Regions from separate parts of the Homo sapiens genome. Here all the other regions are linked to region 2. The links come from fine-mapping of genetic effects on gene expression. A gene starts in region 2. Each other region holds a variant in brackets. All regions are shown on one strand. Distances are between the middles of the regions.

What was found. PIP is the estimated chance that this variant, and not a neighbour inherited with it, causes the effect.
Region 1: its variant is the best candidate, but not a certain one, in a credible set for the expression of NOSTRIN in lymphoblastoid cells (GTEx, PIP 0.89).
Region 3: its variant is the best candidate, but not a certain one, in a credible set for the expression of NOSTRIN in subcutaneous fat (TwinsUK, PIP 0.56).
Region 4: its variant is the best candidate, but not a certain one, in a credible set for the expression of NOSTRIN in pancreatic islets (PISA, PIP 0.72).

The regions. Positions count from the first base shown.
Region 1 is chr2:168,878,466-168,886,465 of GRCh38, reverse strand. All of the region lies in intron 3 of SPC25 (SPC25 component of NDC80 kinetochore complex), which reads left to right. Among named protein-coding and RNA genes, the nearest start is that of SPC25, 8.0 kb to the left of the region's middle. The variant C/T (reference allele first, on the strand shown) is at 4,026.
Region 2 is chr2:168,797,773-168,805,919 of GRCh38, reverse strand. It overlaps NOSTRIN (nitric oxide synthase trafficking), which reads right to left and starts at 3,283. Exons shown (of 16, transcript NM_001039724.4): 1 at 3,247-3,283. The coding sequence starts at 3,273. RefSeq lists enhancers at 3,340-3,839, 7,167-7,461.
Region 3 is chr2:168,856,605-168,864,751 of GRCh38, reverse strand. NOSTRIN (nitric oxide synthase trafficking) reads right to left here. Exons shown (of 16, transcript NM_001039724.4): 12 at 7,974-8,062; 13 at 5,115-5,240; 14 at 3,843-3,957; 15 at 2,703-2,792. It also overlaps a transcript of SPC25 not described here. Among named protein-coding and RNA genes, the nearest start is that of SPC25, 30 kb to the left of the region's middle. The variant A/G (reference allele first, on the strand shown) is at 3,721.
Region 4 is chr2:168,897,855-168,906,001 of GRCh38, reverse strand. It overlaps G6PC2 (glucose-6-phosphatase catalytic subunit 2), which reads right to left and starts at 4,711. Exons shown (of 5, transcript NM_021176.3): 1 at 4,453-4,711; 2 at 3,448-3,557; 3 at 1,386-1,497. The coding sequence starts at 4,670. The variant A/CA (reference allele first, on the strand shown) is at 4,260.

The DNA of each region.
Region 1 (8,000 bases), 81 kb before region 2:
CATATGACTGCTATTGCCCACCACTAAGGAGACAACAGTGCATAAAGTATAATCTACTCACAATATTGTGGGGGATATAGATAGGGAAACCACAATTAAAATATATTGTTCCAGGCTCGATGGCTCAAGCCAAAGTAATCCCAGCACTTTGGGAGGCTGAGGCAGGAGGATTGCCTGAGTCCAGGAGTTCAAGACCAGCCTGGGCAATATAGTGAGACCTTGTCTCAATAAAAATTAAGGAAAAATTAGCCAGGTGTGGTGGTGGGCACCTGTAGTCCCAGCTACTCAGGAGGCTGAGACAGGAGGATCGCTTGAGCCCAGGAGATTGAGGTTACAGTGAGCCGTGATCATGCCACTTCACTCCAGCCTGGGCGACAGAGTGAGACCCTGTCTCCAAAAAAAAAAAAAAAAAAAAGATTGTATTCGTTGTTAGAATAATGTAATAGATGCTGTGTGAGGATAGAATCTGGAGGGTTTGGTTCTTCCAGTGAGGAATGCAGGATATTTAATAGCTAACCATTACCTTGTATACCATGTGCTAAGCCCTGTTCTAAGCTCTTTGCATATATTGACTCATGAATCCTCACAACAACCCTAAGAGGTATAGATACTGCTTTTTTATGACAAAATAAGCACAGAGAGGTTAAGCAACTTTCTCAAGGTCAGATAGCTGATAATGAACAGAAATATGATTTGAACCTGCGGTCTGATTATACCACACTACTTTGGAGAAAATCACATAAAGGAGGGTTAGGGATGTTCAACAGAGTCAGCATTACATTCTGGGAAGAGGGAACAGCACATGGAATATGGCAGGAACATGAGAGCTTGTTAAGTTCTGGGATGGCTAGAGTACCCTGTGGATGGGGAGTGGTGGAGAAGTGGCTGGAAGAACTCGTTGGCCAGATGATGGACATTCCATGTTGTGCAAAGGGGGTTAGACTTTGTTTTTCAGGAGATAAAGAGTTGCTACAGGATTTCAACCTGGAAAATGATATTGGATTTATATGCCAGAAGAAGCAATCTAGTAATCATGCACAATAAACAGGAGGGGAGTGAGATTGTTGTCCATAAAGAGACCAGTTAAAGGAAAAATTTAGTGTAATAGTACAGGCACATAATGAGTATGGCTTGGACCAGTGACAGGTCTGAAGAGTTAGACTCAAGACTGTGGGCCTGAAGGTGAGAGTATGCTGTGGTCTAGGATGATTCCTTCTGACATGGAGTATGAATCAGTGGTGATGCATTTACTAAGTGAGGGATTGAAAGAGAGGAGGAGCATGTTTTTATAGGTGGGAAGGAAACATATGTGGGTTCAATTTTAAACATGTTGGGTGAATATGCTGAGTTTATTGTGCAGCAAGTCTTCAGGTGGCGATATCTGATAGGCAATGGATATATTCATCTGGAAGCCAGCCAGAAAAGTGGTCTTTGCTGAAGATAGGGATTTGTGAGTCTTTAGTGTATTTAGGGGGTTGAAGCTGTGGAAGAATATGTAGAGTGAAAGAAGGTAGCCTTGGTTAGTAATAATATTTATTTACTCATTACTGTGTGCCAGGTACTGTGCTAAATGCCTTACATTGACCACCTCCTTCAGTCCTCATGATAGTTCTCCAGGGTTGGTATCATTTATTATTATTATTCCTACTTTTCTGATATTGCAGTCCCAGAGAGATTATGATTTGCCCCAGATCATCAGATTAACTCCAGAAGCCTTACTCATCTTCAGAGCATTACATTTCCTCTCCAATTTGAGAGAGTTAAATGGAAACGACCAGGAAAGACAGAATTCGTAATTGGAGAACAGAGGAAGTAAGAGAGAAGGTCACCAAAACTAAAAGAGGAGAGAAATAATAAAGGGTGTTGTTAACACTGTAAGTCACAGGTAGATCCAGTAAGGTAAAGATTGAGATAGATATTTTGGGAACAAGAAAGATGGAAGGAATTCATTCACTGACCAAATACTTGTTGAGCTACTGCTGTATACCAGGTAATCTTCTAGGAAGATACTGCAGAGAACAAAATAGCCTAAAGTTCTGGAGCCATAAATTCTAATTATCACAAGAAGGAAGATCATCTATTGAAAGTGAGAGGTATTTACTATGGGCAGGCTTTTACATTATTATAAATCCTGAAGTCTGTCTAAGACAGAGATTATCCCTGTTTTACAGATGAGGAAATTGAAGCTCACTGAGGTTAAGAAACTTGCCTAAGGTAAATAGAGGATCTAGGATCACAATGATAGTGTCTGTGCTCTTTCCATTGTGCTATACTGACGTGCATTGGAGTGAAAATGCAAAGAAGGGTTCCTCTGGTGTGTAGGAGTGAAAGTTTGAAATGTCGGTCCTGGGAATAAGACAGCCTGCTATGTACACATGTAATAATAGTCACACAGCAGGCCAGGTGCAGTGGCTCACACCTGTAGTCCTAGCAATTTGGGAGGCCGAGGCAGGCGGATCACGAGGTCAAAAGATCAAGACCATCCTGGCCAACATGGTGAAACCCCATCTCCACTAAAAATATAAAAATTAGCTGGGCGTGGTGGTGAGTGCCTGTAGTCCTGTCTGCTCAGGGGGCTGAAGCAGGAGAATTGCTTGAACCCAGGAGGCGGAGGTTGCAGTGAGCTGAGATTGCACCACTGCACTGCAGCCTGGCGACAGAGCGAGACTCCATCTCAAAAAAAAAAAAAGAAAAAAAAATGGTCATACAGCATCGAGGACTCCTATATTTGTATTGGCCACAAATCACACAGTTCTTCAAATGTTATAATAAAAACACTCTCATATGTGGTATTTATGTGTCACTAGTTTAAAAGTTTTTGTATTATTATTACTGGATACTCTAACCCCAGTGAATGAGGTAGCCAATGTTATCCCCATTTTACAAATGAGCAAAAGAGTTTCAGAAGTCGTGATTTTGACCGAGATCTTTGGGTAAGAACTGATAAGCTGAATCAGACTTGAGACCTTTGACTTTCAATCTGAATTTCTTGTGTAGTACAATTCTACTTAATTTTTTTCTTTAAATAGTAGCATTTTTCTTTCTAGTAAGATGTTTATTTTTAAATTATACTTGACGTAATATATGATCATGTTCATATTCTTAGAACATACAGAAAAGCAAAAAATATCACCTGTAATGTTGAGAACCATATTTAACAAAACAACTTTCTAGCTTTTGTTTTTCATGAGCTATGTAGGTTTTTAACGTAATTATATTCATGGTATCTATATAACTATCTTTTTTTTTCAACTTTGAGAATATTTTCCCACATTGCTAAATTGTTTTGAAAATACATTCCATCTTATCGATATACCATATTTTAAAAATCATTTGCTTGTTAGCCATTGAAGATGTTTTCAGTTTTTCATTATAAATACTGAAAAATAATTTTTATATATAAATATTTGCACGTATCCTATTTCCCTAGGGTAACTTTGTAAAAATGAAATTGCTGGGTCAAAGGAGGTAAATATTTTTAAGGCTCTTTTATTTTACAATGTCAAAAATATTTTCTAGAAGGACCCTAGCATTTTGCATTCCTCTCAATATTAGTAATTATTTCTGTAAACATTGTTGTAATAAATGAAAATTGAAATCTTACTGTTTTACTTGCATTTCTGTGATTAATCTGAGGTTAAATTATCTTTCATATTTATTAGCCATCTGCATTCTGTGTTTCATCTGTTTATCCCTTTGTCTGTTTTTTTCTTAGGAATTTGTATTTGTGTCTTCCTCTTGAGATTAAAATGGTAACCCATTGTTGGAGGAGGATAATTTAATGGGCAAAGCATTGCCTTTGAAGTCAAGACCTGAGTTTGAATGCAGTCTGTCTGTCTGTTTATTTATTTATTTATTTATTTTTGAGACAGGGTCTCGCCCTGTCACCAGGCTGGAGTGCAGTGGCGTGATCGCAGCTCACTGCAACCTCCGACTCCCTGGTTCAAGCTATTCTGCCTCAGCCTCCCTAGTAGCTGGAATTACAGGCACACGCCACCACGCCCAGCTCATTTTTGTATTTTTAG[C/T]AGAGACGAGGTTTCACCATGTTGGCCAGGATGGTCTCGATCTCCTGACCTCATGATCCGCCAGCCTGAGCGTTGCAAAGTGCAGGGATTACAGGCGTGAGCCGCCATGCCTGGCCCTTATTATTTATTTTAGCCTAGCAAATACAGCTTTGGGCAAGTTACTGAACTGCTGAGTGTTTTTCCTCTTCTTTTAAAAAAGTAGTAAAAGACTAAAGAATTTATTTTGGATTTCGGCACTGTTTAGAGAATAATCTACCTCTTGAACATTGATTTGATATTTCATTTATCATATTAACTTCCTAACTGCCAACGTTTGTTTGGCATATCTTTTATAATATTTAGAAGCATAAAATATCTCTTCATATATCCAGATCAAATATGTGTCTCAGACAAGCTTTGCAGTTTTTTTCAAACAGAGCCTACATATTTCTTGATCTAGGTTGATTCTGAATTTTCTGTTTGTTACCTCTGTAAACGAGATTTTCCTGTTGCCTGAGGAATGCTTGTCTTGAGAGATGTTGTTCAAGCACTGAGAATTCCATGCTCACTTCAATTTGGGAAACATATCATAGTGTATTTCTCTTTTGAAGATTTATGGTATTTAAAGTCTTCATAAATTCAGTGATGGACTAACTTGTTTAACTTTGAGAAAAAGATTACTCATCCTTGGAGCACATATTTACTTGTAATTATGATACTGGAATTAAATGACAGTATAGATAGTTTGGTTTATTTGATACAATTCTAGACTACTGGCATTAATTGGCATTCGATTTTAAAGTGTTTAGATTTCATTTAAGTATTAGTAAAACTAAATCTTTAATTCAGAAATTCATAAGCACATTATAAAGCACCACTTGAGCTCTACTGGCTCTGCTTATTTGACCTCAGTAGCCTCTGCCCTAGAGCTCTTATGCTTTTTGTGCCTTCCTGCTTTGTCTAGCCCCCTGATTGGCATTTTGGGGACACCATCTCTGTGCAATGGGCCCCAAGTAGCAGCGGTTGTATCTTTCTTCCAACAAACAGAGGAAGAAGTGGTCCTGCCAGGGTTACTCCTTTCCCAGCAGAGAGGTTTGGCCAGGTTTATGCACAGGCATTGTTGTTTTTATTTTGAGCATGTGTGTGAGAAAGGGGTGGGTAGTTGCAGAAGCTGAGTGTTTAAGAGGGCTAGGGCAAGAAGAACTTGTACAGAGAGTGACAGGGACATGGGGAAGGCAGGGAAGGTAGAGAGATTAAAGCCAAGAAGGAGTAATGAGGTGCTGGCCAATATGTGAGACAGATGTAAAAGGCCAGTATTTTGGTACATGGATACCTTGTTTTATTGCACTTCACTTTATTGCACTTTACAGATATTGCAATTTTTACAAATTAAAGGTTAATGGCAACCATGTGTCAAGCAAGTCTGTGGGCACCATTTTTCCATCAGCATGTGGTGACTTCGTATCTGTCACATGTTGGTAATTCTCACAAGATTTCAAACTTGTCATTATTATATTTCTTGTGGTGCTCTATGATCAGTGATCTTTGACGTTACTATTGTAATTGTTTTAAGTGCCATGAATGACACCCATATAAGATGACAAACTTAATGGATAAATGTTGAATGACTTCTGACTGCTCTGCTGACCAGCCATTCCTGTCATTCTTCCTCTCCTTGGGCCTCCCTAGTCTCCAGTATTGAAATTAGGCCAATTAATAACCCTATAGTGACCTCTAATTGTTCAACTGAAAGAAGGAGTCATAGGTCTCTCACTTTAAATCAAAAGCTAGAAATGATTAAGCTTAGTGGGAAAGTGTGTCAAAAGCTGAGATAGGCTGAAAGCTTGGCCTCTTGCGCCAATTAGCAAAAGTGCTAATTCAGTGAACACACGAATGATAAGAAAGAGAAACAGCCTTATTGTTAGAGAAAATTTTAGTGGCCTTAATAGAAGAGCAAACAAACCACAACATTCCCTTAAGCAAAAGCCTAATTCAGGGTAAGACTCTAGCCCTCTTCAATTCTGTGAAGGCTTGAGAAAGATGAGGAAGTTTCAGAAGAAAAGTTTGAAGCTAGCAGAAGTTGGTTCTTGAGGTTTAAGGAAAGCAGCTGCCTCCATAAAATAAAAATGCAAGATGAAGCAGAAGTGCTAATGTAGAAGCTACAGCAAGTTATCTAGCTAAGATCATTGAATGAACAGATCATTAAAGAACGGATTTTTGATGTAGATGAAAAAGCAGTTTTCTATTGGAAGAAGATGCCATCTAGGACTTTCATAGCTAGAGAGAAGTCAAGGCCTGCTTTGAAGCTTCAAAGACAGGCTGACTCTTTAGTGACTAATGCACCTGGTGACTTTAAGTTGAAGCCTGTGCTCACTTGCCATTCCCCAAATCCTAGGGCCCTTAAGAATTATACTAAATCTACTCTGCCTATGTTCTATAAATGGAATAGCAAAGCCTAGATGACAGCACATGTGTGTATAGCATAGTTTACTGAATATTTTAGGCCCACTGTTGAGGCCTTCTACTCAGGAAAAAAGATGGCTTTCAAAATATTTCTGCTCATTAACAGTGCATCTGGTCACTCAAGAGCGCTGATGGAGATTAGTGTTGTTTTCATGCCTACTAAGACAACATCCATTCTGCAGCCCATGGATCAAGGGGTAGTTTTGACTTTCATGTCTCATTATTTAAGAAATAAGGTTATAGCTACCCAAATAGTGATTAACTCTGATAGATCTGGGCAAAATAAATTGAAAACCTTCCAGAGAAAGGATTCACCATTCTAGATGCCATAGAACATTCGTGATTCACAGGAAGAGGTCAAAATATCAACATGAACAAGAGCTTGGAAGAAGTTGATTTTAACCCTCATGGATGACTTTGAGAGGTTCAAGACTTCAATGGAGAAAGTAACTACAGATGTGGTAGAAATCACAAGAGACCTAGATTTAGAAGTGGAGCCTGAAGATGTGACCGAATTGCTGCCATCTCAGATAAAACTTGAATGGATAAGGAGTTGCTTCTTATGGATAAGCAAAGAAAGTGGTTTTATGGAATGGAATCCACTCCTGGTGAAGATGCTGTGAACATTGTTTAACTGACAACAAAGGATTTAGACTATTATATAAACTTAGTTGATAAAGTAGCGCAGGGTTTGAGAAGACTGACTCCAATTTTGAAAACAGTTCTACCAGGGGTAAATGCTGTCAAACATCATTGTATGCTGCAGAGAAATCTTTCATGAAAGAGTTGATTAATGCAGCAAACTTTATTGTTGTCCTATTATAATAAATTGCCACAGCCACCCCAACCTTCAGCAGCTACCACTCTGATCAGTCAGCAGCCATCAACATCAAGGCAAGACCCTCCCCCTGCAAAAGTTTAGGACTTGCTGAAGGCTCAGATGATTATTAGCATATTTTAGCAATAAAATATTTTTAATTAAGATATGTACATTTGTTTTTTAGCCATAATGCTATTGCACGCTTAATAGACTACAATATAGTGTAAAATAACTTTTCTATGTACTGGGAAACCAAAACATTTGTGTGACTTGCTTTATGGCAATATTCGCTTTATCACAGTGATCTGGAATAGAACTTGCAATATCTCCAACGTATGCCAGTACTTAAAAATAGCACAGAATAGCAAAAACTAATAAAACCAATAAAAACAAAGAACAAAAACGAATATTGCAGCTATTAATATTAGTATAAACATCTATTCTTACCTATGTATTAATCACTGGTGTTATGTACAAAAACTATTGATTTTTTTGGGGTGTAGTACCACAAATTCTGATAGGTTTTCAGTAGATTTTTCTGAGTATTCTAGATAGATGTCTATTGTCTACATATAATGAAAAATAGTTCTTGTTTTTTCCTTATAGTTTTACCAGCTAAATATCTTGTCTTGGCCAGAAACTTCTAGGGAAATATTAAATAACAGTGCTAACTGGCATCTATTTTATTCCTTTTGGAAATGCCAAATATATAT
Region 2 (8,147 bases):
ACACTGGGGAGGCTGTGGGCCACGTGACACCCATGCCATATGCAGCCTCCTTCTGTATTTTTGCAGCGAGTCAGATTCTCCTAGGAGCTACGGACCATGGCACCGGCACCATCTGAGTTAGTGACAGTCATTGTCTGATATCCAGGCTAAGCCACCAAGATGGGAAGCTCAGGTTGGCATCTGAGCCAGGTTACCAACCTGAGGAGCAGCCTGGTGCCATTTCAATGGCCGATGACATGCGGGGAGGGGCTGACTGTGTGGCGCCCAGAAGACTTGCTTTGACAGACCCCTTCCTGGATACTGTATGAGTGTGTAAAAAGCAAAAATTTGGCTACAGCTTGTTACTTGTCCTTGATTTCTATGTGATTGTTTGATAGGAAGGTGCTATTAATACTTTCTTATGATTGGATTCTTTCCCTTAGAGATAATTGGATCTTACTTCGCCTTTCTTGCACATGGATTTGAAGATGAGTTCCCTAGACATATTTTTAGGTTTAAGAGCTAAACCTAAACCTTCATAGGCAATGAAACATCAAGGCCCAGAGCCAATTCTTTTCCTTGTCAAAAACAGAACTTTAAAGATATCTTACAGATATCTTTTTCAAATAAGTTCTGACACTCTCAAGATTAATCCTACACAGCATTTAGGCAATCTTATGCCACCCTGGCAACAATTTGAACTCAAACACTGACCTTGCTCTTTGAGGTTGAAAGGCCCAGCTGTCAGTCTATTTTGCCCATTAGAGCTTGATCTAAAAGAGATTTTTAAATTTTTTCGTACCATGAGCCCTTTTTGTAGTCTCATGAAACCTATTTGATTCAGAATAACATTTTTAAGTAGCGTAGGGTTAAAAAGGAAATGAATTATATATTTTTTAGAATGTATTTTTAAAATTATGATATTATGTGCTTTTTTATTAACATACTAAATTACATATCTTAAGTATTACCAACATTTTGAAGTCAGGGTGAATGTAAATATTTCTAGATATGTGCAACAACTGTAATGTTATCATAAAATTTCTGATTTTTATTGGTTACAAAGTCACAGACACTATACAGATATGACTAATAGTATTGGGGCTTGTTGCCTATATTCTGGATTGAATAAAATTCTAAATTTCAGTTAGAAATTAGTACAAATAGAGATTTTTTTTCACTGAAGTTCATGCAACCCACTGAGTTCCATACATGGGTACATTGGTGTGGGCCCGGTTAAGAACAGTAGCTAAGCTAATACTTTATGAACTGTGCTCTGTGCAACTCTAGGGACTCATGGAAGGGGACATTTTGCAGGTGGTTAAAGCTTTGGGTTCTTTTATAAAACTACCTAAATGTTTCATGAGGCACTCATTTGCAATCCATTTCCTTGTCTTATTTTGTTCCCAAACCGCAGATTCATCTTCACATAGCATTGTTCCCCAAGTACAAGCTAAGAATGTGCCAGGAAATCAACTTGAACACTTGATTAAGATGAAACAATTGCAAATAAATAAATGTTCTGTGAGTTTAGAGGGTTTGGAAACCCAGGCTGAAGGGATATCCGCCCTCCCCATGACTCCCGGATACTTTTGGTGGCAATGAGCCCATACAGATGACCTTCAAAGTTTTAGACAAGGACAGGAGTCCTTGGCCCAGCATAGCACAAGGAACTATTCAGCATGCCAGGGAGTGGAGCTTTAAGCAGACACAGAAGTGTGGTTATGGGTTGCCTTGGGGGCTGCTGAAAGAAAACATTTCTCCACGTCTGAAGACTTGACTTTGCTGTCTACAAAAAGGATGTTAGACCTTCAGTTTCTTTTTTATGGATTTATTTCTTCTTCTCTTTTTAAACTTAATTAAAGCTGCCCACCATTTCCCTGTCTTCTGTCCATTGCACCCTTCCCTGGTGTTAATTTTCTTCTTTGGTTACTATTAGTGCCAAGATTTTGCTGCCACTTACCCCATCCCTGTCCTGGCCTGCCGCCCCTATACAAAAACATTGAGGTAGGAGTGTTGAGACAGGAGAGGATTTAACAGTTTAGTCAGGGAGCAACCTCAAGGAGAGAAAAATAAATGATAAAAGACTTCTTAAAAATTATTCACAATTAACAATGGAGAGAACACTGAGATTGAAGTAATTAAAGGGGGAAGTTTCACTCTTAAAAATCTATATATAACCATATCATTGGAATTTGTTTCTACATTAAGCACAAATTATTTCTGTATTTAAAAAAAGGAAAATTAGGCAGAATTGGCTACTATGTTGTCATTATTAAAATTACTAGTCATTTATGAGTTCATCTCATTTAGCTCATCTGATTTTCTGCAATAGTAACTATAGTTCCATTTTTTCCAACCATGTGCTTTTCTTATCCATTGAATAAACAAAAAGGAAATCAATAATCCTCTGCTGATCTTTTTCTTTATGACTTTATCTCAGCGCCCATTTATCTGCCGCCCCACAGTTTGTGTTATCAATACATGAAGGATGACTGCAACCTCCTGCTTATGATGTCACCAATCTTAGCTTTTCAGCCCCATGTGTTGGGATAAAACACTGACCCTCCTTAATTACTTTATTTTCAAAGTAAACATATCCCCCCCTTTATTTTAGTTGCTTCTTATCTCCTAAATTACATCTCTGCTATTGCCGCCGGAGACCTCACAATGTCTTTGGACTTCTGACCAAACTTATATTTTTGGTAGTGCTCCAAACATTACCAAAACGAACAAACATGGAACAAACATGCTGCTAAACCAGTCTGAGAGCCACTGCAGGCCAGGCAGAGTGGGGAGTCTATCCTTCCTCCTGCAGGACTTGTGATCCTTGACTCCAAAAAATGAGGGTGAAAAGGCACAAAAACTCTCCTCCCTCACTTTATTCTCAGAGCCAAAAATTGGCTGCAGACATTCTGTGTGTTTTTGTATCCACACCACACATGATGTTGGCACCATGGGTGTATGTCTTAAGAATGTTTTCCAAACAGCCACCATCTGGATCCAAATATGAGGCTTTACTCTCTCAAAACTTTTTCCAAGAATATGAGAAGGAAAGATGACAATTACCTGCCCTGTCATTTCCTAGAAAAAGCTCTGTTTTTAAACTGAACCAAAGAAAAACCACAAACTTTTGCACCACAGCCAATATCTAAATGTGTTTGGTTTCTGAGTGTCTCAAATTTCTTAAGTTAAAATCCATTAATATACAAATCCACCCTCCACCCTCCTCACACGCAGGCACACAAACCACACTGAGCTACTCACCGGACAATCTGTCAGTGGGTCCCTCATGTTGAAATGTGTCTGGCTTTTGTCCTTTCACCTACGCTCCAGCATTCTGGACACTGTAATCAAGGTTGGGTGTGTCCTGGACTTCCGGGATTCAAAGGGCCTAGAGTACGTCAGTCCTTGTCAAACATTCCAAGGAGGAAGTCCCAGCCCTGGACTTTCATCCCGTTTGTGTCCCGAGAAAGTAAAGAACTGCTCTGGGTCAAGACGGCCAGTGTGAGATAGTGAGAATGACTTCTGTAAACCCTCAGAGGGCAGGATCCTGAGTCCTGAACAGCGTAACATTGAGAGAAGGCAGAGAAGCTGTAACATGTCTCCAACAATTCTTGCGCTTGGTCTGACAGTGCAGGAACACATATCCTCTCAGCCTGCAGTATTAATCATGCTTTTTATTTTCTGTATTGTATGATGCTTTGACCTTTGGGGACCTCATGGACTTGGAGACAGACTGCCTCTCTGAGGGTTAGCTAATTCCTAGAGAGAGCAAACAACTGGCCTGTGAGCACTCCTTTAATATGCAAACCAACAAATCCAGAGCCCAAACCTCCCCACCATCTCTGTTACCCAGTTCTCAAATACCAAGCCCATATTCCCCCACCCCCTAAATCCCACAGGGCCAGACACCAAACAACTAGGAACCTACACCTATAGAACTATAACTATAGAATGTTCAGAAACAGCTATCAGGAGCAAAGCGTACATTAACCACTTCTCTGAGCCTAACTCCACACTCGCTCCAGCCCCAACAGGATCAAGAGGCTAAGCTTTCAATGTAAAGAAAAAATTGCCTAGATCTGGCCTCATTTTTCATCACTCAAAAGGATAGACAGAACAAGAACTCAACCACAGCTTGAGTTCTATTGCATTCCCTGTACCTGTGGTCCCAGTTGCCAATCATTAGATTTCCAATGAATGGCCTATTGATGTACGACAGCCATTTGCTAGACTGTGGACAGTTCTGTTTGACTGGCAGGCAAGGGCAGGCCCCAGTTTGAAAGGAGCTCCATCAACACAGTCCAGTGGAACACTTCAGAGTTTAAAAGCATTCAGTTTTCACCTGACTGGCTGACTCAGCCTCCATTCACCTGCCCCTGGTGTGCAGGCTCCATTCAAAGTCCCTAGAAATAAGCCAGTTGCAGTGGCTCATGCATGTAATCCAAGCACTTTGGGAGGCCGAGCCTAGAGGGTCACTTGAGGCCAGGAGTTTGAGAGCAGCCTGGGCAATATAGCAGGAGATTCCTATCTCTATAATTTTTTTTTTTTAATTAGGATGTGGTGGTATGTGCCTGTAGTCCCAGCTACTCAAGAGGTTGAGGCAGAAGGATTTCTTGGGTCTAGGGGTTCAAAGCTGGGCAATAGAGTGAGACTCTACTTCTAAAAAAAAAAAAAAAAAGCTTCCAGAAACAACGTAGAAGAGTCAGGGGACAATTAAGGAAAAGAACTTGCCTTGCAACAAGAGTGGAGAGGAGGGGTCTTTTCCACACACTTAATGCCCTCCCTCTTTGCTTATCCAAAGAACTTGATCACTGGAGGTTACAACAATCTTGGGTAGCTACCACAGGGCTAGAATTAGACAAAGCAACTCTGTATAATAAAAGAAATTTAGGTAAGGCACAGTGGCACACACCTGTAATCTTAGCACTTTGGGAGGCTGAGATGGGAAGACTGCTTGAGGCCAGGAGTTCGAGACCAGCCTGGTCAACATAGCAACACCCCATCTCTTTTTTTGTTTTTTTTTTAAAAGAAATTTAGAGACAGGATATAGACTGAGGTTAATAACATGTAACTCAAATTCCCACTTGAGGGGGCTTCTCTGCCCTCAGAGATTTTAGATAAACTTGTCCGGAGCCACCATTCCAGGACTTGGGACAGCTCAATGTTTTCTCTGTGATTCCTGCCCCATTTTTCTTGCTGTTCTGTGTTTCATTTCAGTCCCAACTGAGTCCAAACTGAGGAAATTGGCCTCCCTTGCCAGTTTCCATAAGAAGTGCTGTCACACAAAGCCTACTGTGATCTTTGTATACGAATTATAGATTGGTAGGGCACTCCTATCCCCAAACTCCTCATGTGTGCCATTCCCAGTGGGCTGACTAGCTTTCCCTCAGACCTCCTGGACATCTGCTGAATTAAAATCCTTCCATCTTGCTCCTGTCTGCCACTGGGCCGTTGTAAGGGCAGCAGGGCATCCCAGCTGAATCCAGACTGAGAATTAGAACTTGGCTATTTGTTGAGCTTCTCGGAGGAATGTTTGAATGTGCAAAAAGCCTTGATTTTGGAGGTCAGAAATAGGTTGGTATCGTTTATCCTTTGTCACAATAATGCTGTGTAACAAACAGAAACCCAGTGGCTTCAAATGACAGAGACTTTATTTGGTTCACAAATCTGTAGTTTAGCTGGATGGATCTTCAGGTGTCCCCTGACCTCACTCATGTAAAAGCAGGTCATCTACACAGGGCTTGGCAGAGCCATGCATCTGGGCTTTTCTGGGCAGGGGGCTGGCTGGGAGCTAGCTGTTGGCTGAGGCCGTATTTCATCAGCTGGTAGTCTAACCAGGCTCTTCTCAGGGTATGGCAGAGGAGCCACAAGAGTGAGTGGAAGAGCTCGAGGCCTCTGGAGGTACAGCTTAATATGGACATCCCATCATTTCAGCCACATCCAGCTGATCAAAGCCAGTCATGGGCCAGCCCAGATTAAAGGGGTGAGGAGAGCTTCCACTTCATAATAGGAGGAACTTAGTGTCCCATTGCAAAGGGCATAGAGACAGAGAGGGGCAGACAATTGGAGTTAGTTTTCCATTCAATTTACTACAATGGCTGCTTAATATTTGTTCTTGAATGACTAGAGATAAAGCAGCAAGGACAAGGAGCAGGTGGCTGGTATATGTCTTTCTTTCCCTCTCCCCAATCCAGCCTGGGGTGACACGTTTTGAACCTCAGCAGACTGGCGTTAGGAAGAGAAATAAGAGGACCTAAATCATAAAAGACTCTAGACGGATAAGGGCTGTTCTCTCCTCTGACCCCACATTCCACCCTACACATACTCTGCTAAGGAGCACAGCAAAAAGCACCTCTCCTGGATATGGGTTGTGAGGAGGCAGCAGCAGGGAGAACCTGCTAAGTTGTCTTCAGCCACTGAGGCTCAGGTAGGTGAGGCATCTTGATGAGAAGGATAGAGCAGACCACAGTGAGCACATTTGTCCCCGAGCATGTGAGAATTCCTCCAGTCCCCAAAAATGGCCCAAGGGGACTTTGGGAGGAGGAGACTGAGTTCCCATGTGAGTAAGAGGAGCAAAGAATCTTGTAGTTTTGGAATTAATATTAACAACCTCATTTGTACCTACAGGTTGATGAGAATGTGAACCTAAAGGAAAGAACAACTGAGGCCAACTTAATATAAGTAGAGCATTTACTTGGGCCAAGCTTGAGGGCTGCAACCCAAGAGCATAGTTTCAAGTGGCCCTGAGTATACGCTCTGGTTAGCAGCAGGTACAAGTAGGTTTTCAAAGGAAAAGAAGAGGAAGAGGAAGCTCCTGAGTTGTTTGCCAAGAATTTCCATGAAAATAACACAAGCTGTTGATTGGCTCTACACTGTTCTGTGAATCACAAATTCCAGGACCATAAAGATAGCAGATGAGGCAGCTAGTCAGGAACAAGATGCCTTTACATGATTGCTTCTAGGTGTGGGTTCAAGGAGGCAGAGCAAGACTTGAGCCCCATACTCCCCTCTCTGGGCCTGATAAATTTTGCATACCTCATATAGCTCAGACTGCTCTAAGCCATTTTTCTTCTCTCAAGAACTATCTTCTGTCTGTCTGTCTGTCTGTCTATCTATCTATCGATCGATCGATCGATCGAAGCATCTCCTCCAAGAAGGTATGCCATTCACACTTTCTGAAAATTTTAATGCACAAAGAGTCCTTTTGAGTTCTCTGTTCTCAGATTCGTCTCTGGTCCTACATTTCTGACCCGCACTCATACTCTGGCTGCTTTCCAGCCTGGCTTCCGGTTAGATTTACTGTCTGACCTCTCCTATCCTAATCTTCCTGCTTTCTTTCTCAGTCTCTGCTCAGCATGTGCCTTCCTGGTATGGCCTCTCTGCAGAAAGAAAACCTGCAACGGATTCCCTTCCAGGGTCTGGCCTGGAAGCTGCTCTGCTGGACTCCAACTTTGACATTTTGTGCTGCCTCTAAGGGGAGTTAACAACATGAGTACGCATTTATGAAGTATTCACAAACAAATATTGGGTGTTGGTAAGCTAGTAAGAAAAAGGAGCCCAAATGTAATAGAAGCTCATGGCAATTCAAAACTTGCCTTGGAAGTTTCTTTAGTAGCCAAAGCGTGCAAAGAATTGGCAACAGCATGAACATCATCAATTGAGACCTAGTTAAATACTTTATGGTAATATGAGCCCACATTTAAAGGACATACCACGTGTCAGGCACCATTCTAAGTGTTTTACAAATACAATTGGCTCTCCATATCCCTGGGTTCTGCATCTGTAGATTGAAAATAATAATTTTAAAAATAACAATAAAAATACAAATAAGTATTTATGACTATTTATATAACGTTTACATAGCATTAGGTATTATGAGTTACCTAGAGATGATTTAAAGTACATGGGAGGATGTGTGTAGGTTATATGCAAATATGACACTATTTTATATAAGGGACTTGAATATCTTTGGATTTTGATATGAGGGGGTATCCTGAAACCAATGCCCCATGGATACTGCGGGATGACTTATTAACTTATTTAATCATCACAGTTATCATTTGAGGTAGATATGTATTATTTTGATCCTTATAATACCCACAGGGCAACAGAGGCACAAGGTAGAGACAGGGTCTCACCATGTTGCCCAAGCTTGTCTCAAA
Region 3 (8,147 bases), 59 kb before region 2:
CTGCTTCAAGGATTTACTTGGTAGTGTCATTTTCTGCACTTGATTCAGATGAAGCCAAATGTATCGAACACCTGTGTATAAAGCAGGCATAATCCAGAGGATACTAAAAAGAGTAAGATAATGAACAACTGAGATATATCATAAAATAATTGCTTAAAGACAGGATTGGCTGGGCGTGGTGGGTGACGCCTGTAATCCCAGCACTTTGGGAGGCCAAGGTGGGTGGATCACAAGGTCAGGAGTTTCGAGACCAGCCTGACCAACATGGTGAAACCCCTTCTCTGCTAAAAATACAAAAATTAGCTGGGTGTGGTGGCGCACGCCTGTAATACCAGCTACTCAGGAGGCTGAGGCAGGAGAATCCTTGAACCCGGGAGGCAGAGGTTGCAGTGAGCTGAGATCATGCCACTGCACTCTAGCCTGGGCAACAGCAACAGGGCAAGACTCTGTCTCAGAAAAAAAAAAACAGGATCACAGCCAGGCACGGTGGCTGACAGCTGTAATCCCAGCACGTTGGGAGGCCGCGATGGGCAGATTAGGCAGATTACTTGAGGTCAAGAGGTTGAGACCAGCCTGGCCAACATGGTGAAACCCCGTCTCTACTAAAAATACAAAAATTAGCCAGGCATGGTGGCACACGCCTGTAGTCCCAGCTATTTGGGAGACTGAGGCAGGAGAATCACTTGAATCCAGGAGACGGAGGTTGCAGTGAGCTTGGGAGACTGAGGCAGGAGAATCACTTGAATCCAGGAGACGGAGGTTGCAGTGAGCTAAGATCACACCACTGTACTGCAGCCTGGGTGACAGAGCAAGACTCTGCCTCAAAAAAAAAAATAAAAAAAGATCACGTTGGATCATATATCCTTATGCTGCCTGGCTCACTTTCTATTTCTATGTAGCTGATGGATTGTCACCAAACTCTTTCTTGGTGTCCGTACTTTGAGGGTTTCACATGCTGGTGTTTTTGATTGTTTGGCGTGTTGGCTGCTATAAGTATGTCTCACCAACAGTCTTTTCTTAAGATCAAGACAATGTCTCTGCATTATCCCTGATTTCACAGGCCAAAAGTTTAACTCACTCACAGCTTTGCACAGAAATGTAACTCCCCATTCAAAATGTAACTCCCCATTCAACAACTTAGACAACTTTAATACAACATCAATTTGGAGACAATATTTTTTAAAGCAATGATTCAAATAAAGAGAATTCCATAGAGAATTGGACAAGAAACATGGCTCTTGTCATAAAAGTAGAAAGATCTGCCCCCTTCAGGATCATCTGCCCCCGTCAGGATCCAAGAGCTACTTTTTATTTGGCATCATTCTGAGGTGATTTTTCAGTCTTCCTTTCACTCTTTTCCTCAGCAACTTTCTTTCTAAGACAAAGGAAATTATTAACTCCTTTTCTATCTTTTCTACATTTTCTTAGTCATAAATCACTATTCTTAAAGGACATTATTCTCGGTCTCTAAGTTCTCCCTCGTCAGTAAATTGACATAATCTATTAACAAGAATTCAAACAAATAATGATTTCAAATTGTATTGCCAGCTTCCCTAAGGCTCCAACGTCGTGTTTCATTTAAAGAAACTGCTTAGAATATAAAGTATAAGTAGGCTTTGCAACCAACAGAGAACTGAAAACAAGATAATCAATTTATTGTGAATGATGTAACTTAAATGCTGCATCCATGGGTTCTAGGTGGCATCTGGGAAGTATGTCTGTCTTTTATTCACATAGGAAGAAAAGTAATTGCCTGGAGAGATATGACTGGCAAATGCTGCAAAGGAAACACCCAATAAATAGCAAATGTGTGGTGTCCCTGTCGTTTGGCTACAAAATGTATCTTGATTTTCCATTGGCTCTGGGAGCCATGTCCTTGTCGTGGATAATATTCTTTCTCCCATAACGTTACTCTTTCTCACTAACCCTTCCGTTTCCAGATCTCTGCATTAGCGCTAACATTCAAACATGGTTTCTAACTGGACACATAAAGAAGGTTGAGGCTGGAGACTTTCTTCTTTAATAATGTTGTGGTTTACATTATAAAGCCACTACGTAATACCTTTCCATGTTAAGTAAAACTCTGTGACACAAAGAAGGGGATCTCACTCTTTAGACTGGCTGTAAAAAGCTTTTCTGAGAAGTAAGTGAGACCAGCACTAAGCTGGGAGTCAGCTGACCTAGGTTCTAGAATTTGCACTTACTTACACTAAGTTGAGAGAGGAGGTCACTTCACATTCCTGAATGTCTAGCTTCTAAAAAATAAAAAGGTGGGGTACATCTCTAATCACTTTCCATCACTGACATTCTACCCTAGTGTGCACTGTGATTAGGAGCATGACTGTGTTTCCAAGTTCAAATCTTGTGTTGCCACAGCCTGTGACATTAGCCAAAGCACCTAACCTTCCTGTGTATCAGTCTCCTCTGCTATGAAATGGGAATACCAATAAAACCCTCCAAGGGTTTCATGAATATTAAATTGGACAATAGGCCTGCAACAATGTCTGACACACAGTAAACAGAATAAGCGTTAGCTATTATCATTATGCGAGCTTTTGTTTTAGATGTGCTTATCTTTCAAGAAGGGTGAACTGATTTGACATGGTAGTAACTCTTAAGGCTGCCACACTAAGACAGGGTTTTATTCATGCTAAGAATCTCAATATGGGAAGGCAATTAAAATATTTGAGAATGATTCTTACCCTTTTCCAAATTCAACTCATCATCTTGCCTGGCTTGAAAAGAATACAAGGCCTTGCAAAGTCTGCTGCTGAGCTGGGCTGCACCAGGGGCTGAAATAGATAAAGCTGTAATTAGTATGCTGTGTTAGCAGGCAAATGAATATGAGCTGAAGCTCTTTGGTTATTTAACAGTGTGATGCAGAGTTTCAATATATTAAATTTTTCTCAAAAGGAAAGTTTGTAATTTTATATAATGTTCATTCCTTGATTCAATAACCACTTATGATGCACTTTCTATATGTATGGACTGCATATGTTATATAACCAAAAACTATATTATAATACATGAAATAGCAAGTCTAGAGAAAAACATCATTGTATAATAATAGTAATTGCATGCATGTTTTGGAAAACATTCACCAGTTTTGCCATTCAGGTATAAATACGGGATATTTGGGGCATGTGCATGTTATCATCATCCCTAGCTGTGTATGGAACTGTTTCTCAAACAATGCAACAGTGACTCCTTAATATATTGTGTGAACCATAATGTCCTGGTTTTACTGAAGTTCTTTTTTTTTTTTTTAAACCAATTTCTAATTTAAAAAACTAGATAGTCAAGATTATGGTAATTATACTTGAACATGCAGGTACAGTGACACGTGTGTGTGTGCTGAAAGATGAAGAGCAGTGTGGTGTGTGGGTGCATGAATGACTGAAGTCAGATGGCTGCTAACAGGAGTTTGTAGGCCATGAGTCCAAGCCCTGGCAAACCACCTGGATCACCATGTGTCTCGCAGAGAGGACAGGCTTCTTATGGGAGTTTGGAGGAGGCTATGGAGACAGAGCGACAAAGCTCCTCACGATGGTTTAGGTGTGATTATGTTTATGGCAAATAACAGGCCATTTGAATAAGGTGGATGCCAGTCATCTGATATCTGAGGCAACTTCTCATAGGATACTTTCCCAACCCTCTACTCTTCTTAACTTTTTCCCATTTTTACATAAAGCTACAGAGTCTAACAAATTAATCGGTCCC[A/G]ATGGAAATATAAATTTCCTTAAACAGATACAGGTCAAAGTGGCTCTGAAACTAAAATTTAAATGTAGCAATGTGCCCTGCCAGTAGGACCCAGGCCAAAATGATTGTGGGCATGGGATTACCTGGAGTTGAAGAACCTGGATTGCTCTGCCCACCAGAAGATGCCTTGCTCACAATATTCTCTAATCTCTTCATTAAAAAAGGCCGAGATATTTTCACATAGCTATGAGTATGCTCCTGTTCAAATGACATAAAAAGTCATATTTTGTAACACGATTATCATAAACATTCATGAAAATTAACTCTTCTGTAGCTGTTTTCCTCAAGTTGTTTTTTCTGTTTGTTTTTTCTTTTTTTTTTTTAGACAGAGTCTTGCCCTGTCACCCAGGCTGGAGTGCAGTGGCATGATCTTGGCCCACTACAACCTCCACCTCCCGGGTTCAAGTGATTCTCCTGCCTCAGCCTCCCCCGTAGCTGGGATTACAGGTGCCCACCACCATGCCTGGCTAATTTTTGTATTCTTAGTAGAGACGGGGTTTCACCGTGTCAGCCAGGCTGCTCTCGAACTCCTGACCTCAGGTGATCCGCCTGCCTTGGCCTCCCAAAGTTCTGGGATTACAGGCATGAGCCACTGCGCCTGGACTGGAAGTTTTTAAACTGAGGGGTATAAATAATTCAAAGATTTCTAAGCCCTACTGTGTTTCAGTTTTGAGTTGAAGCCTTAATATTTTCACAATTACACAATTACTATACTTTATAGCCTGTGTTTCCAATTCTAACCTATGTGTCTAGGTCAAATAGTAATATTCATAGCATTACTTTTACAAATACAACTTTAGTTGGCTTAATGCAAGTGAAATGATCACAACCCTGTAAATGATTGAGATTGTTTTCGAGCTCTTGAGCCTTAGAAAACTGTCCCTTCACAAGATGATTACAGTTCCCCCTTCTGATCAGTAATAAAAATAGCTACAAGCATTTCAGAGCTGTACTGATGCATTATCTGCATTAGGCACCATCTTAAACAGATGAGACTAATACATACCACAAAATCTTATAATTTAGGTCTGAACGAATATTAAAATTTCAATTTAATAGAAATTTTACTGTAAAAGCACATCCAAAGGATGAAATTCAGGTATGATGAGAAAGAAGAAATCAAAAGTGTTTTTTAGCTTCTCATAGAAGTTTGGTGTACACAGAATGTATTCGGTTTTGTCTAGCTCTTGTTATTGTGCTCAAAAGAAAAATAAAAACATTTATCTTCTTAACTAACTGCATGAATATTAATATCACATAGAATTCCTAACACCTTTTTTGCCCTGATGCTACTTTAAGCCACTCCACCCAGCAGGCCCAATCAAGAAATTACAACCAGTCTCCTTAAATGTTACCTTTTCCCTCCACCTGAAGATGGAATTACTACAAGGATGGCTGGGTTGAGGTCTTTGCTCAAGTTCTGCTAACATTGATGACAGTTTGTAGGAGTTCGCTTCCAAAAGGTCTAGTTTCAAATTGTTCTGTGGATACATCATTTGGCCATGTGAGCAAATTTCTAGTAAATGAGGCACAACTGGATAGGAATATCAGAATAACTTTCAAAATAACAAAGGTTAGAAAAGTACGCATTTAACTCATACAGATATTCACAGAAAATGCCGAAGGAAAAAAAAATGGAGGAATAAACTCTTTAAGCAGTTTAGAGGGAGGTTTTAGTTGTTGAGTGTGTCTCATTCTGTACTCTGGGGGTGAACAGGAAACCTTGGTAATATATTAGTATTTTATGGCAATGAAGAGGTTTTACTCAATTTTCTGCTGAGGGACAAGAAAGGGGATAAGTGTTGATTGTAGAAGGTAGATTTTTGGTGGTCTGCGAAGAAGGTGAGCCATCAGTGCTAAATATTGTGAACAGAATTGAATTAACATCAATAGACGCAAATGAAATTGAATGTGAGGTTTGTTTGTTCTTTGATAAGGTGAGGTCTTATATTACCCACAAAGTTTACAGGAATACTTCTGGAAACTGGGAACAATATTTTAGGGCATTTGAGTATAAACATAATAAGTCAAGCTAAAGATACACTCCTAGTCTCTGTCTGTTCTTGATATGACCTTGAACTAGAAACTTTATAATTACCTTGTCAGGCTGGGTCCAGCCAGGGTGAATTAAATAACAGAATCTAAGCATTGGAAGGGTCTTGCTTATCCAGCCCCCTCCTCACCATTATCCCTCTCTCCCCCACACCTCCAGCATGGGAATTCCCAACCCTAATATCCCTGCCAGGGTGTCACAGCCATGGACAGAAGACATCCAATTGATGGAGAAAGTCTCTAATCGTTGGAGGAATCCACTGCATTGTGGGGCAGGCTTACCTAAGACAAAACTAAAAGCTCCCCCATGCTTTCTACCATTAGACCTTCACTTGATAGTCTCATAGAGCACATCTAGTTCTTCTTCTATGTGGCCCTCTTTCTGGTCTCTAAAGACAGTATTTAATCTAAGTGCCTCCAGTTTTCTCAACAATTTTTCTTATGACACTGCTTGTGAACATTCTTGATTCAAACATGGCACTTCAAGGACCAAGATATAATGAAATAAGGAAGAATGTAAATAAAAGTTTCCTCATCCTAGAAACCTTCCGTGGGTGACACAAAATCTACCAGTATCACTAGTTTCTGTCTACCCAGATGCAGAGCATGCGTAATGAAATCATGTGGATATTTGGCATTCCTCACTTAAAGGTTCATAGTTGCTCCTTCACCAGATCATAAACATTGGAAGTTCCAAGGTCAGATGCTCTCCCTCCTTGTGTCCTCCACTGTGTGCTTCAGGTGAGAGGACCCAGATGATCCTAATACATGTATGCTGGTAATGACAATGACAAAATTCTGTGCAAGGACAGCCAAAGGAATAGATGTATAACCCAATGGCATCAGTAGTTAACTAAACAGCTTGTGCGGTCACAGAAAATGTCCTACAGTCTGTTTTATAATTTCATAAAAACTGTAGCCACGGGTCATTGCAGGTATGTTAGACCTCTGTTACCCAGTGCACACAATGCAGGCTATTTTCTTTTACAAGAAGTGTTAGGCTTGTTTCTGCAACAGCACCTTACTCAAGAAAGCCTATCTAAAAACTAGGTCAGCGATACCTCACTGCATCTGTCTTCTTTCACCAAAGAACTATTGAAATTGCCAATCTGGGTACAATTATCAAGTACCTACCTTCACAAGAAAGTTAGGCTATAAGCAAGAAAAACAAAACGCCCAGATTCCTGTACCTTCAAAACATTGCTAAAAAATTTATCTCCTTAAATGATTCTCAGATTAACCCCAGTCCACTCATGATCTCTAATCACAGCAGAAACCCATATGTTGCACACTGGTGCTATATATCTGTTCATTTTTATTCCTGTGTAAAATTCATCAGCTTTTTGTTAACTATCCCTTTCCCTTCCTCTGAAGTGGCCAAAATGTCCATCAATCCCCACGAATGTCTATGGGGCTAGAGTTCACACACTCAGCACAAAGGCCAGGAGGCCCACCTCCCTGCCTCTTCTACCATCTCCCCACCCCAATTCCCACCCTTAAAGAACTTTGCCCTCAAAGTTGCTCCTGGTTTCCCCAGATTTTGCCTCACACACCAGACTGCCCTATTCCCTCTGCAACCACGTCTTTCCTTTCCCCTGTTATTCTCCGATAACCCTGAGATCAGCAGAGGGATGAATGGAAAATACCACCTTAATAAAAATTACTAGTTTTTGAGCTCCTCCTGTGAGCATTGTGCTGGTATTTACTAAATAATATTTCACCCTCACAAAAGCCCCATGAGGTAAAGTACCAATATCCCCATTTTGCGGATGAGAAAACTAAAGTTGACCCAGGTCCCTGTAAACAGCAGAGCTAAATCTAAATACAGGCCTTTCTGAATGCAGATCCTTTGTTTCCTGTCGCTTTTCTTAACTGGGTTAAAGTGCACATGGTTTCTAGGCCCTTAAAGAACGACTCTGTTTGGAGAATACTATTTTAGACACAATTCTTTTCCTAGGACACCAAAGCAAACATTTCTAGGTAGTTGTATTTTTCCAGATCCCTCAAATGACTTATGAAGCTGACCCTATAAGCTCCCCCACTAGATTGTTCTATGTCATGAGAAAGGAAAGGCAAACAAGGCCAAGTGGACCAGAAACAAGTATTCTAAAAATAACCCTTTTCATCACTACATCTAGGAAATGCACTCGGCAAACATTTACCTCATCCATTAACGCTGCTGTGTCTTTCTGGCTCTTTGCATCAGAGAAGGAGGAGGTGCTGGAGTACGTTTTAAGCATTCGTTCCAGGCCTGAAAATGAAATCATGTTCTCAGTCACCTTTCACACTGTCTCAGTGGGACACAGCCAGGAGTCGGTCGCTCTCAAAGGGAGCCT
Region 4 (8,147 bases), 100 kb before region 2:
AAAACATAAAAAAATATTAAAATCCAAGCAATGCATGTCATTGAAAAAAAAAAGTGTTAGCAGTATTGAGTTCTAGGAATCCTTGAATGGTTTGTTCCTGATAATCAGACTGAAATTTGGTTATATAAATGCTAAGGAACACAGAGAAATGAGGCTTTGAAAGAAGAAGTAAGTGGGATACCAATGTGGAAGAAGAATAAACAAGAATTTGGTAATGTAAAGGTAAGAAGCACACACTCAGTAAAATTTTATAGATGAAGAAAATACTGCAGTTATAAAAACTAAAAAGGAGTTATGAGAATTTTTTTCTTAGAAGAAACATATTTTTTCAGGTTTGGTCATTGGAGGCAGGAATACAGTATAGAGAAAAGGTGAAACTGACCTAGATTCCTACTTTGAAAATTGTCTGTAAATAGAAAATGCTAACTTTTTTACATTATAGCACCTTTTTATGTTGTTGTTTTGGGTTGGGCAATAAATACATTAAGGCATACAGGTCACAGTCTCATTAGAATAAACTTTTAAGACACCCAAATTCCTTTAGTTGTTTGTTTTTTATATTATCCAATACTACTCTAACAAGTGGAATATGTGATAGATCTTGACTTTTTTTATTTTAGAAAACTTTTTAATAATGGCATATGTTACAGTATTTTTTTAAGGTTAACTTGCAAATCTAATTTCAAGTCACCTAATTTATGGCTAAATTGGTACTCAGGATTGTTTTAATGACAAAGTATTTCAGGAAAGAAGAGAAGGAAACAACCCAATTTCTAAGCAACTGTGAGTAACCTTTAAGTTCTAGATCTTTCTAAACATTAAGAAACCTACTAACATTAAATCTACTAACATTCAAATTTAAGTTTGCTTCCAGAATGTTTTTAATTAAAAAGTTTGTGCTCTCTATAAAGCTGGAATATATGTTACTGAAATCAAAAGCATTGGCTATTCGAAGAAGGAAGCATAATTTTACTGAATAAACTGATGCAGTCAAGGAGAATGATGATTCTCAAAACTTCCAGTTAATTTTAAAGCAAGGGAATGTGCATGCAAAAATGTTTCCTTATGCTGTATAATTTTAGACGACTTATTTATGAGTTATCAAAATAATTATTGCATTTTGGAAACCCAGAGGCACATTTAGCAAGTCATTAATCAGTTAAACATTTCCAACTTGAAAAGTGGAAATAGCTATGAGCTAATTAGGCTATTATCTTAAAGCAAAATATTAGTTTTCTATTCATTTTGTTATTTTGTCTATGAAAGAATAGAATAAGCACATTTTATTCATTGACTAAAACTGCACTAAAATTAATTTTTAGACAAGACTTTCTGTATTAAAAACTGTCATATTCCAGTGCTACAGAAACTGCAGCAAAGCTGACCTGTGCAGAGTGATAGAGAACTTATCCATCCCACAGACAGTGTGGCTCAGGGCAGCGGTTACCATGACATACCAGACACAGGATGCGCCCATTGCATGGCCAGATGGACTTCCTGCAACAACAAAGTGTCCGTCCATTTGAAAAGTGGTTAACTATCAAGATCAGAAATGAATAATAGAATAGCATATTCCCCATGAAAATTATGAGTAACTCAGAAAAAAAGACAAGACACAGGCTATATGTAATGTTTAGAAGTGGGTAGAAATAAGAAAAATTGAGTTAAATTGAGCCTGAGAAACACTGTCTCAAAAAATTTTTTTCCCAGATTTTCAGGTTCATTGAATTCCAGAAATCAATATACTCAAGGCTAATTAAGAACTCAGGCAGTTGCACCCAAATCTGCCACAGCCCTACTCATTCTTCAATATTTGGTTGTTTTTAATTGACAAGCAAAAGTATTAGGTTAATGCAAGAGTAATTGCGGTTTTTGCCATTGAAAGTAATGGCAAAAACCGCAATTACTTTTGCACCACCCTAATGCTTGTATTGGATCTTCAGTTGGCTTATTTTCCTTGGGCTGAGAAGTCAAACTCTAAAGGATATCATTGCTATGCCAGTGATTTGCTGATTGACTTACAAATGACTGCTGTGTACTAGCAGCTACTTCTATGCCTATCTTGTGGCCACTGCAGTGAGAATCTTTGTTTTAAAACAGAGGATGAGGAGAAGCTATAAAGACGGCATTAATCCTAGCAGAAAAAGCCTTTCTACTTCCAGAATGCCTTTTCCATGCTACTGAATTTTTTATTAGTTTCCTTAAATGTCCTCCTCGATTTTTCACCTGGTAGTTCATTCAAATTAAATACCAGTCTCTTATTTGTTAAACAAAGACAGACCTATTTCTTATCTGCAGGAATTTTCAGAGCCTTTTAAAAACTATGCCTTAAAAAATTGTAAATCTCCCCGAGAGATGCAGTCTTTCTTTCTTTTCTCTCTCTCTCTTTCCAGAAAATGTCTTATAAGGTGGAACACATGCCGGAAAGGACTGGAATTGACCACGATAACATTTCGGTGGTCTCAAATGTTACCCATCCAACCATTCATCCATTTATCACACTTTGGTTTCACAAAGATAAACTATGCATCATCCCTCCCCTGATGGAACACCCAGTCTAGGCAATCGGATATATAAAGAATTAGTTAATATCATTTAGTGTAATAAGCGATATAACAGATGTATGTATACTTCTATGGGAACAAAAAAGACATATTCAGAACACTCATTAAGAATTTACACATTCTCTACTACCCTTTACTCAAAGTTAGTTTCGAAGGATGTCAACTGGCGAGAATGTTATGCTATGTAAAATGATGAGGTACAATATAACACATTCTTATAAATTAAAATGTAATTTTTAAATATATGTTTCAAAAAACTTTTTAAAACAGTCTTAGAATCAACTATCACAATAAAGATTTTATACTCATACAGAATCTTACCTAGAATAAAAAAGAAGTGGCCCAAGAAGCCTACTTGTGTACAGAGAAAAAATATGTTTTAAAGAGATTGTTCTAGGGTTAGAAATAGTCTTTACTGGCTATAGTAACATTGAGAAGTCCTTACCTTTCTTACAGAAGACTTGTCTACTCCTCCCTCATTCGTGAGATACTCGGAAGACCTATAGTAACTTTGAAAGTTGCTTAGCAGCAGATTAACCAACATTTCTAAGATCTTAGTCTAGTTCCTTGAGAATTTGTTCTAGTTAACTGTTTCTTGTTTTAGTATCAAGTCATTATATTCTTCTGAAAAGTAAACACCAAATATTTAATCACTGGGGGAGTTTTCTCCCAATCTACCCTTTCATAAATAACAAAATGGAATTTGAGTATTTTTTTTGCTTTGCTTCCTCATTAGTAATTTTGATTGTTATGAAGTTTTAGCATCCTCACTCATGAGATTTTCTTTACTACCCTATATAATATCAGTTCCTAGATGATAACCCTGTGTAATGATTCTCTATTGGAAGATCTTCAGTAACTGGAGCCTGCTGTAATAGCTTACCTGGACCTGTTTCACATGTAGTAGGGAACTGTTCAAGGCATGGACTTGAGTGATTTGGGTAAATCTGAGTTTCTTGGACCCACCAGTAAGGTCGATGACCAAATAATATCCTGTATTTAAAGAATTATAAACATGCATATATATTTAAATACACAGCTATTATTTAATTGGAGATTAGCAATTCTTTCCTATAAAAAATGACTCAAGCGCAGGGTTAATTGTGAAAGTTCATGATTAAGAGACTTTGAAAAAACTTAGGTCTTGGTCTCTCACACATTATTAAAGGTGGTAGCCATTTGGTATTTTGGCACCCTGGTTTCCCATGAACATGGGGGCTTTTTTCCCTTGCAGGGAATGTCTTATGGGTGCTTTGGATACTTAGACTGGAAATATCAAAATTTGTCCCTAGAATTATCAATTTGTTCATTATCACGCTGCTCATGTAAGTAATTCTTAATCACAGAATATGTGTTACAGGGGTTTGGGAATTACTTATAAGTCATTAAAGTACACATTTCTGGCCTGGCGTGGTGGCTCACACCTGTAATCCCAGCACTTTAGGAAGCCGAAGTCGGTGGATCACCTGAGGTCGGGAGTTAGAGACCAGCCTGACCAACATAGAGAAACCCTGTCTCTACTAAAAATACAAAATTAGCTGGGTGTGGTGGCACATGCCTGTAATCCCAGCTACTCGGGAGGCTGAGGTGAGAGAATTGCTTGAACCTGGGAGGCAGAGGTTGCAGTGAGCCGAGATCACGCCATTGCACTCCATCCTGGGCAACAAGGGCAAAACTCTGTCTCAAAAAAAAAAA[A/CA]AAAACAAAAACATATATATACATTTCTGTGCCTTTTAAAAGTTCTACTTATGAATCTGGTGTTTCAAGTTACCTGGTATTTTTGAAAGATTTTCCAAGTAAAACGATATACATCTGAAATGTGATCATTATGCCGAAGTCACAAATTTAAGGATAAATCTTAGGAAAAAATGAAATAAAACAGAAATCTTACCATTTAAATATAAGATTTAACCAATCCCCAATGACTGCTACCCATATCATCTTGGTTCCAACTGTCTGATTAAATTGAAAACAAAGTGGAAAATAAATGAAAAAGATATTCCTGGGGTCTCCAACATTGGACATAAAATTTAGAAAAGTGTAGTAAGCTCGGTAGTCCTTCTGCAAATGCTGAATTATGAGCACTCCATTCCTGTGAAGGAAATCCATCTTGAAAAAGAGGCAATTCTAAACATAGAGCAATTGGAGCTGAAGTGCTCTGATTCCCACCGTTTTTATACTGTGCCTTTGTGGCATGTCGAGCCATTACTGCAACATGTGATGCTGACCATCTGTGGAGAGGGCACACCAGCCCTCCTCTGCTGAATAGCTCATCTATTTATGATTTTAATTGGTGGCAAAGAGTGAAGTACATGCTGATCTGTGGCAATTCGAGGGGGAAATTTGGATAGAAACACAATGAATTTCTTATGCAACCTCCCTTTTGTGCGAACAGTTGGATCATGTTTGCTTGAAATTTTTTGTACAGTTCATTTCCTCCAAGGTCAGACATTAGCAATTTCTATGTTTGGTGAAAAGACTTTGCAAATAATTATTGCATGTCAAATAGCCCATAAAGCCCTGCATTTTAATTTAAGATAGGCTGTGGCTCTCTATTTTATTGGGTCTTTGAGGAAAATGGTTGAATAAATATCTGGGTATGAAAAATATATGATATGACAGATTATGTTCTGATCACTGATTTAAAATAAGAATAGTTCAATTTTCTTTATCCAAGAGAATGATAGAATATATATGGAACAGGGAAAGAAATGTGTTGTTTTTTGACTATAAGACAAGAAAGCAGAAATGAAAGTCATTTGGATAATAGAAATGTGTTAGGATCAAATTGTATCTTTTATTAACTAGAGAATACAGTTGAGAGGAATAGGGAATGATTCATGTGACAAAGATAGGAATAGACATCAAAGGGCTTTTGACCAATCAGGAAAATGGTTTGTTGAGAACAGAGTGTTAAACAGAAGTGGAAAGCACCAAACAAATGCTAAGAATGAACAGAAGGGTAGCGCAAAGAGGCTGTGGATCTAAGTCATAGGTCCATAATCTACGGCTGTGGACTATGACTAGACTATAGACCAGGACTCTGGTCCTGGACTATAGACTACGACTGGACCCTGGACTATGGACCAGGGTAGACTGAGAATGAACAGAAGGGTAGCACAAAGAGGCTATGGATCTAAGTCAGAGAGATGTTGGGTTTAGAGAGCTGGATTGTGTCTAGGATTAGTGGGAAAGCAACAAAGCCTCACAAGGTGGCCAGGGATGGATCTAGGTAACCTTACTTGTTATTTTGTCATTCAGATTTTTGTCTTTGCTTACCATGGCCTAAGTAAAGACAAAAGACTTCACTAGAGTCCTTCACAGGCTATAACTATCACTTTGAACTTCTCTTCGAGTTTTGTGTCCCATCATTTAACAGCACCATTGTTACTGGGCTTCAGTGTCTATTGGTACCTTACCTGGAAGAAATGCATTGACTGACCATTAACATCTTTTGGGGTGCTTTTTAAATTGCCATAACTGTGTTCCACCTGAGATCAGTTATATTTCTGGTAATGGAATTTGGGCATTGGTATTATTAAAATACTTCTCAAGTGGTTCCAATGTGGTATAAGGGGCTTAGAATCATTGCACTAAGGCAATTCATATAAGGAATTATCCTTGACTAATTAGAGTCTATGCTTCTGGCTTTTCTTTGTTTTGCATATTCAGGTTCTGTAATTTCCATAATCTCTTTAATGAGCCATGAGGAAGAGCATAACTTCCCTTTATTCTTTTTCTAAAAAGTGTTTGATCTACGTAATTCATAATACTCATTTTCTTCAGAAATGTCTTATCCTTAAATCAGGATGTGAATGATATCAAATACATTTTGTCTTCCACTTAAAAATTAAACTTCCTGCTCTTCAGCACCTCAGAGTCTGTGATTAGCCTTTCATCTATGGTAGTTAATTTAGAAAGATTTTCTCTCGAGAACTACCTGGTTCTGTAGACTGTGGGATAATTAAGTGAAGCAAAAGCATCTTGATTTCTTTCACCCTTTAACAGCATCTGCTAATCTGCTTATTCCTCGTAGTTCATCATTTTTAGTCTTTTCATATCTTAGCTTCTATGCATCCATCGGTGATGCCTTCTCTGACCAGCATCCTCACCACTCCTCTGACAATACTTTCTCTCACACACTCTTTTCTCCTAGGGGGTTGTTTGAGTCTGCTAGGGCTGCTATAACAAAATACCAGACTGGGTGGCTTACACAACAGAAATATAGGAAACTAGGAGTCTGAATCAACGCGTCGGTGGCGTTGATTTCTTCTGAGCCTCTGTCCTTGGCTTGCAGATGACTGTCTACTCTCTATGTCTTCACATGGTCTTCCCCGCTATATGGGTGTGTTCTAATCTCCTCTTTTTATAAGGATACCAGTCTTATTGGATTAAGGAAGATACTAATGACCTCATTTTAACTTAATCACCCCTTTAAAGACCCTATCACCAAACACAGTCATTTTGGGAGGTACTGGGGCTTAGGACTTCAACATGAATTTGAGGGAATACAGTTCAGCCCATAACCGGGAGTTAAACACAATTTATAATTATATATTTATGACAAGTGTATATATTTAGCATCTCTCTCCTGTACTACAGTATAAGCTCCATAAAACAAGGGGTCCTGTCCACTTTGTGCAACAGCCACAAGCACAGTTCCCATAACAGGCCCGTGTAGAAGCCAATTACCCATGAAGCTGGAAAAGTTCGCACGGGCGCCTAAGATGGTAGGTTGGGCCGGGCGCAGTGGCTCACGCCTGTAATCCCAGCACTTTGGGAGGCCGAGGTGGGCGGATCACTTGAGGTCAGGAGTTTAAGACCAGCCTGGCCAACATGGTAAAACACCATCTCTACTAAAAAAAAAATACAAAAATTAGCTGGGCATTGTGGTGGGCTACTGTAGTCCCAGCTACTCGGGAGGCTGAGGCAGGAGAATCGCTTGAAACCCGGGAGGTAGAGGTTGCAGTGAGCCAAGATCGTGCCACTGCACTCCAGCCTGGTCTACAGAGTGAGACTCTGTCAAAAAAAAAAGGCAGGTGGTTACTGATAGTTTAGAGTGCATTCACGAGTTTATTTTCTTTTTATTAAAGAGAGGGCCTATATAACAGGGGCTTTATAGAGGGGCCTATATAAAGCCATTTAACAGGGGCTTTAGATTTCACAAAACCTGGAACTGCCCCTGGGCCCATCATAGTTATTTAGTAAATGTTTATTGAGTGAATGAATTATTGAACAAAGTTGATATGAGTACTAAATTATAAAGAGCCTGTGTTTTAAAACTATGTTATTTGGTTAGTGCAAACTCAAAATGCATTTCTCCACAGAGATCATGTTATATAGTGGCAATGTCAAGAAAGTGTATTTAAGGTGGAGAAAATATATATAATGTGTATTCTAGAAAGGGCTAATATATTTGTATGTGTATATGTGTGTGTGTGTACATACATATATAAATATGTATGCAGATGTGTGTATATGTATATATACATATATTAGCCCTTTGTGTGTGTGTGCATATATGTATATATACAATTATATATACATATATAACATATATACACACACATATATACACATATATGT